2 separate regions of the Homo sapiens genome follow, and region 2 is linked to region 1. Evidence: fine-mapped expression QTL. A gene starts in region 1. The other region holds a variant in brackets. All regions are shown on one strand. Distances are between the middles of the regions.

Region 1 (5,371 bases):
GGTTTTTTTTTTAGATGAAGTCTCACTCTGTCGCCAGGCTGGAGTGCAGTGGCGCAATCTCGGCTCACTGCAACCTCTGCCTCCTGGGTTCAAGTGATCCTCCTGCCTCAGCCTCCCAAGTAGCTGGGATTACAGGCATGTGCCACCACACCTAGCTAATTTTTGTATTTTTAGTAGAGACAAGGTTTCGCCATGTTGGCCAGGATGGTCTCGATCTCCTGACCTCGTGATCTGCCCGCCTTGGCCTCCCAAAGTGCTGGGATTACAGGCATGAGCCACTGTGCCTGGCCAGTTGCCCGCTTTTTATGAGAATCTAATGCCTGATGATCTGAAGCGTTTCATCCCAAAACCATTCCCCCAACCCTATCCCATCCGTGGAAAAACTGTCTTCCACAAAACCAGTCCCTGGTGCCATAAGGGTTGGGGACCACTGCCATAGGCCCTATGGGCCTTTGTTTTGTGAGGGAGTCTCAACAAACAGAGTTATTTTTTAGGTGAAATGTAAACTAAGCAGTGTTCAGATTGCCTCAAAGCAAATCAGAACTGTGTGTAAAGGGATCAATATCAGGTCCGGATGGTGAAGTGGGCCCAGGGTTTGTCTTCTCAGATGCAATAAAGTTTACATAGATGTAGAATATTGTGTCCTTATCTGAAGCTCCAAACCTGGATTGTAAATAGGGACTGCTTTTCTGTGTCAAAGTGACTTAGCTCCTCCAAGCAAAAGTGAGATGTTTCATTCTTACTTGATGTGATTTCAAACAGCAAAGTTTGTGATCATCTCTGACTTTAGACAACCAAAGTTTCCTACTAAGAAAGCAGTAGACACTCAAAGGATGGGAATTCTGCCACTTTACATCTGCAGTATGTCCAAGAGAAATATTTTTTCCTGGCTGGGTGCAGTGGCTCACGCCTGTAATCCAAGCACTTTGGGAGGCCGAGGCAGGAGGACTGCTTGTGCCCAGGAGTTTGAGACTAGACTGGACAACATAGGGTGATCCCATCTCTCTCTTTAAAAACAAAATTTTTTTTTTTGAGACGGAGTCTCACTCTTGTTGCCCACGCTGGATTGCAGTGGCCTCATCTTGGCTCACTGCAACCTCTGCCTTCTGGATTCATGCGATTCTCCTGCCTCAGCCCACGGAGTAGCTGGAATTACACGCATGAGCCACCACGCCCATCTAATTTTTGTATTTTTAGTAGACACGGGGTTTCACCATGTTGGCCAGGCTGGTCTCGAACTCCTGACCTCAGGTGATCTGCCCGCCTCGGCCTCCCAAAGTGCTGGGATTACAGGCGTGAGCCACCAAGCCTGGCAAAAAAAAAAAAAAAAAAAAAAAAAAAAAAAAATTTAAATTATCCAGGCATGGTGGCGCGTGCCTCTGGTCCCAGCTACTTGGTAGGGTGAGGTGGGAGGATCACTTGAGCCCGGGAGGTCGAGGTTGCAGTGAGCTGTGATCGTTCCACTGCATTCCAGCCTGGGCGACAAAGCGATCTTGTCTCAAAAAAAAAAAAAAAAAAAAGCAAAGAAATGTTTTTTCCTAGTAATTCTTCCACCAACTGGCTTATGTCAGCCAGATAAATAAGGAGACAGATCTTTTACAGTCGAAGCTAATTCTGACTTTCCCAAGTATGACGAAAGAGGTAAGGATGACATTTTTTAAACCTAAGCAACAAGAAGAATGAAGCACGCTACTAAGATAAGACAGACTGGAAGGTTTTGGGGAGACACGATCGCAAGCTCAGTTTCGGATGCTCTGAGTTTCAGATGGCTCAAATGCGTGGGGAGGGCAAGTGGGCATCTGCAGGCTCTCTAACAGCCTGCACCGACTTCACTTCTTACATCCCTTTCACTCTTCGGCTCGCTTCGCTCGCTATCTGTAGTCAATCGTCTACTCCTGTTTCCCACGCCTGCACCTTTGTATGTGCAATGGACACTGCCAGGAAGGCCATCTCCTCATGGTTTAACCCCACTTCCTAACACCCTCAAGCAAGACCAGAAGCCCCGCACAGCAGCACTAATGCTCGGGCCCCACCCCTCTCAGGGTCCCGCCTCCCTCAAGCCCCGCCCCGCGCTGCGCTCACTTGTAGAAGCTCACAGGGCGGTTGTCTGCACCCAGGCGGCCCGCAGTGTTGGAGCAGTTCGGCGCCCTGCAGTACTTGGGCATGGCTATCCAGCCCCCGCTGAGTTTTGCCGGGTCAGCGGCTGCACTTTGGTTCTCGCGGAGCGCCGCCTAACCCCGCCCCACCCGCGCTCGCCGCCTGCCTCACGTGACGTCCGTGGAGTCTCGTCACGTACCGGGGAGAGAGCTGAGAGCGCCTGCCTACTAGGCGCCCCTCCACAGTGCCACAGTCCCGCCCTCGTCACGTGACGAATGGGCCATAGCGAGTACTGTGCACCTGCGCAAAGCCGGCCCTTCGTCACCCCGACTTTCATCACGTGTTGGGGGGAAGGGCGGCGTCACGGCGTTTCTGAGCCTGCGCCAACCAAATCAACTGGCTAGTCAATCTCTTACGGCTCCACCCTACGCCTACATCCGGGCAACCGTTGGGGCGCACATAGTTCCTCTAGGTGGCGGCAAAAACCGAGGTGAGGCGGCCGTGGCCTTAGCCTCGTAAAAATTAAAACCTGTATGTTTCAGCGAATAATGAAAACGCAGTCTGGATGAAAGACCCCATGACGCTTAATCAGGCATCCAGTACACTGGCTGTGGCCCCGCCCCGCCAGGCACTCGCTCCGCCTCTTCGCCCCCATTGGTTCTAAGCGCCGCCCGGCATCCCTGCGATTGGCTAGGCCGGGCCCGTCGCGTCCAATAGGCGGTGGCGCCGGCTTTCCCGCGGCTGTTCGCTGTTCCAGTGGGTCGTGGCGGTGGCGGCAGCGGCGGTTAGGGGATGTAACGGTCGCCCGCCTCCGGCGTGACGATGGCGGCCGTAGGGTCCGGAGGCTATGCGCGGAACGATGCAGGGGAGAAGCTGCCCTCTGTCATGGCGGGAGTTCCGGCGCGGAGGGGCCAGTCCTCCCCGCCCCCCGCCCCACCAATCTGCCTACGGCGGCGGACGCGACTCTCGACGGCCTCCGAGGAGACGGTGCAGAACCGGGTGAGAAGCTGCTCGCCATGTCTACCCCAGTTCCAGGCTTCCTAGGTTTCCCCTAGTCCCGTCCTGAGAACTGTGGCCCCGACATCAGCCCCCGGCCAGTCCCCTCAGGTTGTTCCCTGCCATGCCTCGTCCCCTAACCCCCGCCCCTTTAGCCACGGCCCCTCCCACTTTCTCCTCGCTGCTTTCCCGGCTCCACCCTCAGCGTTGGAGCAATTCGGGGGTTCCTCGCTGGTTCCCACCCGTGGAAATGCATTTTGCTTCTGTAAATCACAGCCTAGTCCTGCTATATTTTAACCCCCGTTCTATCGCCTTTAGACGTCACGATCATAGCTCACTGCAGCCTCACTGCCCTGGCCCCCGCTGAGTCATTAAGGTCCCTTCGAGGGTTCGGTCCAGAGTGTTACCTGCCCCAACTCTTCCTCGCTTCTACCCCGCCTTCTCTCACCTTCTGCGATCTCTATCCTTTTTCCTCACCAAGGTGGGATTCTTAATCCATATTGTCACTCAAAACTATGAGAAAGACGTGAGAAGTTATTTATAAAATCTCTGCAGTGCTGCCTGGGGAGGAGGGCGTACAGAACAGTTCCCTAAATCCTGAGACAGAAAAATGGAAAGAAATGATTTCACAGTAGGTAGAAGGAATTCCATTAGCACAGCGGCAATTAAAAAAATTGTTTTCCAGCTGTGTAGGCACAAAATCTGTTTTTATAAAATGGAGATGATAAGAACCATACTACTGGTAGGGCGCGGTAGCTCACGTCTGTAATCCCAGCACTTTGGGAGGCCAAGGTGGGCTGTTCACCTGAGATCAGTTCAAGACCAGCCTGGCCAACATGGTGAAACCCGTCTCTACAAAAAGTAGAAAAATTAGCCCGGCATGCTAGCGCGCGCCTGTAATCCCAGCTACTCAGGAGGCTGAGGCGGGAGAAATCGCTTGAACCTGGGAGGCGGAGGTTGCAGTGAGCTGAGGTCATGCCACTGCACTCCAGCCTGGGCGACAGAGTGAGACTCTGTCTCAAAATAAATAAATAAATAAATTATACTATTGCATTGGAGGGAAATGAAATTTTAATTGTGATCTTCTTGGCACGGAGTCCAGATAAAGGGAGGATACCTGGTAGCTGCTGGTGGAGCTTGTTCCTGCCCCATGACTTTCTCCTGCACTGTGATTATACCGCCCACTCCTGGCTACAGGGCTCTGGCTGTACCTCCCATGTGCTCTCTGTCACCAAGGTTCAGTCACACTGGCCTGCTTTTGGTTTTCCTGAGGCTCCATATTCTTTTCTGCCTCCTGGCCTTTGTGATTGGTGAGTCCTCAGCCTGGGCTTTTTGCTGCAATCTGCCTGTCTGGCTCCTTCCCATCCTTCAAGTCTCAGCCTGAATGTCGCTATCTTGAAAGGCCTTCTCGAACCCCATTCTAAAGCAAACAGCCACCTTCATCTGTCACCCAGCACCCTATACTTCATAGCCTTTATCTTATATGTTCCTGAAAGTGCCCTTTGAGCTATTAAACTACATATAACAATAGCAAATTCAGAGAGGCGTTATAGCAAAGTGGCTAAGAGCACAGACTGCTGCTGATGGTATGGTTGGACCCAGGCAGCCTGAGCTTAAACTTTAGTCCTGTTCTTCCTGGCAGGTTATGAACTTCGCTTTTTCTTTTCTTTTTTTTTTTTTTTGAGATGGGGTCTTACTCTGTCATCCAGGCTGTAGTGCACTGGGTTGATCTCGGCTCACTGCAGTCTCAGCCTCCCTGGGCTCAGGTGATCTTCCTGCCTCAAGCCTCCTGAGTAGCTGGGACTGCAGGCGCATGCCACCATACCTGACTAATTTTTTTGTGTTTTCTGGTAGAGACAGGGTCTCGCCGTGTTGGCCAGGCTGGTCTTGAATTACTGAGCTCAAGCGATCTGCCTGCCTCGGCCTCCCAAAGTGCTAGGATTACAGGCGTGAGCTACTGTGCCCCGCCAAGTTATGAACTTATCTGTGCCTCAGTTTTCTTATCTGTAAAATGAGAATAATGATGTAGAAATCTCTCATAGGGTATTTGTGAGGATTCAATGAGGTTACATATCCTAGGCACTTAGAACAACACTGGCATATGGCAAGTACTCTATTCATGTTAGCTAATACTGATATTATGACTGTGTATTTGGGGTAATATTTATTTATTTTTTTTGTTTGGCAGCACAGAGTTGATCTGTCTTGCAAAGACCTAGTCTAAAAGTGACCATTCATACCAGGGCCCAGTAATGCTGATCGACAGATAAGACAACAT
Region 2 (5,371 bases), 44 kb after region 1:
GGCTAACATGGTGAAACCCCGTCTCTACTAAAAATACAAAAAAAAAAAATTAGCCGGGCATGGTGGCGGGCACCTGTAGTCCCAGCTACTTGGGAGGCTGAGGCAGGAGAATGGCATGAACCCGGGAGGTGGAGGTTGCAGTGAGCCGAGATCGCGCCACTGCACTCCAGCCTGGGCAACAGAGCGAGACTCCGTCTCAAAAAAAGAAAAAAAAAGAGAACCCCAAGAGTTCTCCAAACCCAGTTACTGCCCCACCCTGCATTGCATTAGGCTCTCCATTGTCCCCACACTTTTCCTGCCATCCTTTGGTAGTATTAAGCTTTTTCACCTCGGTCAGTCTCGTGAGTCAAATATCGCATCCCACGGTTTAAGTTTGCATTTCCCTAACCCCCGGTGCTGTTGAGCCTTCTGACTTCTGGGTTGTGGTGTTGCCTCTTTGGGGACTGCCCGGTTATGTATGTGGCCTGTTTGTTGGGTTGTTTGTCCTCTTTTCATGGATTCTGTGTCTTTCCAGATCCTCGTTGCCTGCTAACCAACGGCAAGCTGCCACTGTGGGCAAAGCGGCTGGTAAGTCTTCAGGGAGAGGGTTGCTCAGGGGCTGGCAGAGGAAACGCCTCCCCAGCTCTGCCTTCTGGAAGCCCTTTTTCCTTTCCATGTCCCTCTTTTCCCTGGAGAAGCCCTGTCATCCTTCCAGGCTCAGTGAGACAGCCCTTTGTTCATGATCAGTGCTCTCTGCCAGGCATTGTTCTGGATGTCAGGGACACAACAGTGAGCAAGGGAAACAAAAGTCTCTCCCTTCACAGGCTCACTTGCCTGTGTGGGCGAGGAACAATATCCCCATTAAATAAGTAAATGACGTAGTAGGTTGGGTGCTGATAAGTGCTGTGGAGGGAAAAGAATCAAGAAGGAAAATACGTCAGCCAGGTGCAGTGATACGTGTCTGTGGTCCCAGCTACTCAGGAGGCTGAAGTGGGAGGATCACTTGAGCCCAGGAGGTTGAGGCTGTAGGGAACTGAGAAGGCACCACTACTACACTCCAGCGTGGGCAACAGAGTGAGATCCTGTCTCAAAAAAGAGAAAAAGAACAGGGGCCCAGCACGGTGGTTCATGCCTGTGATCCCAGCACTTTGGGAGGCCAAGGCAGGTTGATCACTTGAGCCCAGGAGTTCAAGACCAGCCTGAGCAATATAGTGAGACCCCATCTCTACAAAAAATAAAAAAATTAGCCAGGCATGGTGGTGCATACCTGTAGTCCCAGGTACTCAGGAGGCTGAAGTGGGAGGATTGTTTGGGCCAGGGAGGTCGAGGATGCAGGGAGCTGCACTCCACAGCACTCCAGCATGAGCAACAGAGCCAACACTTTGTCTCATAAAAAAAATAAAAATAAAAAAGAAAATAAGGAGTGTTGGGGGGTGTCAGTTTTAAGTAAACAGGAAAGGCCTCATTGGGAAAATGATGTTTGAGCAGAGTTGAAGCAAGTGAGACAGGCAGATACTGGGACGAATGTTCTAGTCATAACAGCCTATACGTGTAAAAGCCACGAGGCCAGGAGCTCGAGACCAGCTTAGGCAACATAATGAGACTCCCATCTCTACAAAAGATTAAAAATAGCCAGGCATGGTGGTGCACACCCATAGTCCCAGCTACTCAGGAGCCTGAGGCAGGAGGATCACTTCAGCCCAGGAGTTGGAGGCTGCAGTGATCGTGCTACTGCACTCCAGCTTGGATGGCAGAACGAGACCTTGTCTCTTAAAAAAAAAAAAAGAAAAAGAGACCGGGTGCGGTGGCTCACGCCTGTAATCCCAGCACTTTGGGAGGCCAAGGCGGGTGTAATCCAAGGTCAAGAGATCAAGATCATCCCGGTCAACATGGTAAAACCCCGTCTCTACTAAAAATACAAAAATTAGCTGGGCATGGTGGTGCATGCCTATAGTCCCAACTACTGGTAAGGCTGAGGCAGGAGAATCACTTGAACCCAGGAGGCAGAGGTTACAGTGAACCGAAATCATGCCACTGCACTCCAGCCTGGCGACAGAGTGAGACTCCCTCTCAAAAAAAAAAAAAAAGAAAGACAATGTGGATTATAAGAGACAGAATAAGAGAGGTGAATGAAGGATGATCCCAAGGTTGGGGCATGAGTAACTGGAAAAAACAACTGAAACAGGGAATCTTTAGGAGGAGCAGGTTTGTGCAGAGGAAATGAGTTGAGTTGTCAGCATGTTAACTTTGAAATACCTACCAGACATCCATACAGAAATGTAGAGCAGTCACATGTGCAATTCTGAAGTTTCAGAGAAAAGTTCATGAATCCCAGCTGGGCATTCCCAGCACTTTGGGAGGCCGAAACAGGATTCCTTGAGCCCAAGGGTTTGAGACCAGCCTGAGCAACATAGTGAGAGTCCACCTCTACCAAAAACCAACAAAATGGGCTGGGCGCAGTGGCTCATGCCTGTAATCCCAGTACTTTGGGAAGCCGAGGCGGGCGGATCACTTGAGGTCAGCAGTTTGAGACCAGCCTGGCCAACATGGCAAAACCCCATCTCTACTAAAAATACAAAAATTAGCCAGGTGTGGTGGTGGGCACCTGTAATCCCAGCTACTCTGGAGGCTGAGACAGGAGAATTGCTTGAAACTGAGAGGTGGAGGTTGCAGTGAGCCAAGGTCACGCCACTGCACTCCAGCCTGGGAGACAGAGCAAGACTTCGTCTCAAAAAAAAAAAAAAAAAAAAAAACAGAGAAAGGTTCACGCTGGAGATATGTACCTGGAAGTTGTTTCTGAATGGTATTGAAAGCCAAGAGTCCAGATGGGCTGTGTGAAATGTCCGTGTCGCTCCCTGCAGTGAGTGAGCACTCAGCCAGTTGCCTGACTGTCCGATATCCTTCAAGCTAGGGGACGATGATGTGGCAGATGGCT[T/C]GGCCTTCCACGCCAAGCGCAGCTACCAGCCCCACGGCCGCTGGGCAGAGCGGGCCGGCCAAGAGCCCCTCAAGACCATCCTGGATGCCCAGGACCTGGATTGCTACTTTACCCCCATGAAGCCCGAGAGTCTGGAGAACTCCATTCTGGATTCACTGGAGCCACAGAGCCTGGCCAGCCTGCTGAGTGAGGTACACACTTCCACCGCAGCCTGGCCCATAGCCCCGGCACCGTGACGGCCCCAGGGCCTGGCGCCTTAGGCTGACTCCCACTCCATGGGGGCAGGGAGGATTACATGAGATGGTGAAGGGCAGGAGGGTGAGCCCCAGGTCTGTTGCACAGCAAGACTTCCCAAGGCAGACAGGGAGTCTTTGGAAAGTGGGTCACTTGGGGGTTAAGAGCTTGGATGCTAGAGCAGGCTTGTACCCAAGTGGGGGACATTTGGGTAGATCGAGCCCTGACCCTACCCATTCCTGTTGTGTGACCTGGAGTAAGAGGCTTACCTCTTTGGGCTTCAGTCTTCTAAAAAGTAGTCATAATGGGGTCAGGGGCAGTGGCTAACACCTGTAATCCCAGCATTTGGGGAGGCCAAGGCAGGAGGATTACTTAACGATCACTTGAGGAGTTCAAGGCCAGCCTAGGCAACGTAGCAAGATCCCACCTCTACAAAAATATTTTTTAAATTTTTTTGTTTGTTTTGTTTTTAAATGGTAATAACAATCTCTTCTGCCCCAGAGGGCTTTTACAGGAATCCATGCTTAAGTATAGGGCCTGGGCTCTTAGAGGTGCCCGTGCAACTTTAGCTCTTTCTCTACTATTTTCCAAACAAAATTCATTTTTATCCTATCCTATAATTTGTCATCTTCATTGTGGTATAATATACATCCAGTAACATGCACAGATTTTAGGTATACAGCTTGATGAACTATCTGTGTAATTCACGTGTGTCCACTACCCTGGGCAAAATCTGGAGTGTTTTCTACCTCATAGAAACCCCCTTCTGCCCTTCCCAGTCAGGTCCCCGCACCAGGATAACCAGTGTTCTGACCTCTCACCAAGGACTGGGTTTCCTATTCTTGAACTTGATATAAATAGACACGTAGAGGGTTGGGCCTCCTATTTTTGGTGCCACACCTCTTCCTCATCTGTAAAGGGACTGATAATGCAGGGGCAGACCAGGACAAGCTGGTTGCGAGTGGAGGGCATGGCACAGGCCCTGGTTCACAGCCTCCAGCAGTGGGGCTGCTGGCATGGTTCCTGGCGCACTGTTGGTGGCCCCAGCCATGCCTGCCTCAGAATGGCTGTGCTGTCTTCCCCATAGTCAGAGAGTCCCCAGGAAGCTGGCCGCGGGCACCCCTCCTTCCTGCCCCAGCAGAAGGAATCATCTGAGGCCAGTGAGCTCATCCTCTACTCTCTGGAGGCAGAAGTGACAGTCACAGGGACAGACAGGTGGGTGTCCTTTCCACCAAGGGAGCCTTAGTTGGAGGAACCCCCAGCTGATAGCTGCATCCTGGAAGAAGTGCTCTCTGCCTTCCCAGTGGGCTTGTGGGAGTGGGGACAGTTGAGGCCTGGATGGGGCAGGAGCCCAGCCTTAGTTCCCTGGTTCCAGGTGGGGTACAGGAGGGCCTGACCTGGGGGAAGGAGGGGGCATTTGGAGGAGGCGGGGAGGCTGTCGCAGTGCTCCTGCAGGAGCAGCGGGTACAGGTGCCTAGGGGCTCCGGGTGGGGCTAGCTGTTGAGTCTCCAGCTGAAGTCCTTGTTCCCTCTCTGCCCCCACTGGCACTGCAGCCAGTATTGCAGGAAGGAGGTGGAGGCCGGGCCTGGAGACCAGCAGGGCGACTCCTACCTCAGGGTGTCCTCCGACAGCCCAAAGGACCAGAGCCCGCCTGAGGGTGAGTGCAGGGCAGGCAGGGACCCTGTGACAGTCTGTGCGTTCAGCCAAGCCCCTTTCTGGGCACCGATGGTGACTTTGACCCAGTACTGAAGCTCAGAGTCTGTCGAGGAAGACACATGTGGTCCCTGCTGCTGCCTGAGGATTCTGGGCCCAGCTGCCTACAGCTGAGAGCCCAGCTCTGCCACCTCCTTGATGTGGAACTTCCCTTATTCATAAAATGGGGGGCAGCTGCTCTTACCATCCCTCCTCCAGATGGGGAAACTGAGCCCAGGGAAGGGTAGCCCTGGCCCTGGCTCACCAGAATGGTCAGGCTGTGGGCTCCTGACCCCGACTCTGTCCTTCAGACTCGGGGGAGTCAGAGGCCGACCTGGAGTGCAGCTTCGCAGCCATCCACTCCCCAGCTCCGCCTCCTGACCCTGCCCCTCGGTTTGCCACGTCGCTGCCCCATTTCCCAGGTAAGCAGGGGCCAGACACGCAGGGGACTCGCTGCTCGGGCCTGGCTTAGGGCCAGTCACAATGTCTAAGCACAGGCCCTGCACTTGGAGCCCACTGAGCCTGGAAGAC

What was found.
Region 2: its variant is fine-mapped to the expression of WDR62 in tibial nerve (GTEx, PIP above 0.99).

The regions. Positions count from the first base shown.
Region 1 is chr19:36,052,053-36,057,423 of GRCh38, forward strand. It overlaps WDR62 (WD repeat domain 62), which reads left to right and starts at 2,845. Exons shown (of 32, transcript NM_001083961.2): 1 at 2,845-3,096. The coding sequence starts at 2,920. THAP8 (THAP domain containing 8) reads right to left here and starts at 2,233. Exons shown (of 4, transcript NM_152658.3): 1 at 2,083-2,233. The coding sequence starts at 2,165.
Region 2 is chr19:36,096,513-36,101,883 of GRCh38, forward strand. WDR62 (WD repeat domain 62) reads left to right here. Exons shown (of 32, transcript NM_001083961.2): 21 at 515-567; 22 at 2,887-3,105; 23 at 4,236-4,363; 24 at 4,702-4,805; 25 at 5,152-5,262. Among named protein-coding and RNA genes, the nearest start is that of OVOL3, 12 kb to the right of the region's middle. RefSeq lists an enhancer at 4,095-4,596. The variant T/C (reference allele first, on the strand shown) is at 2,915.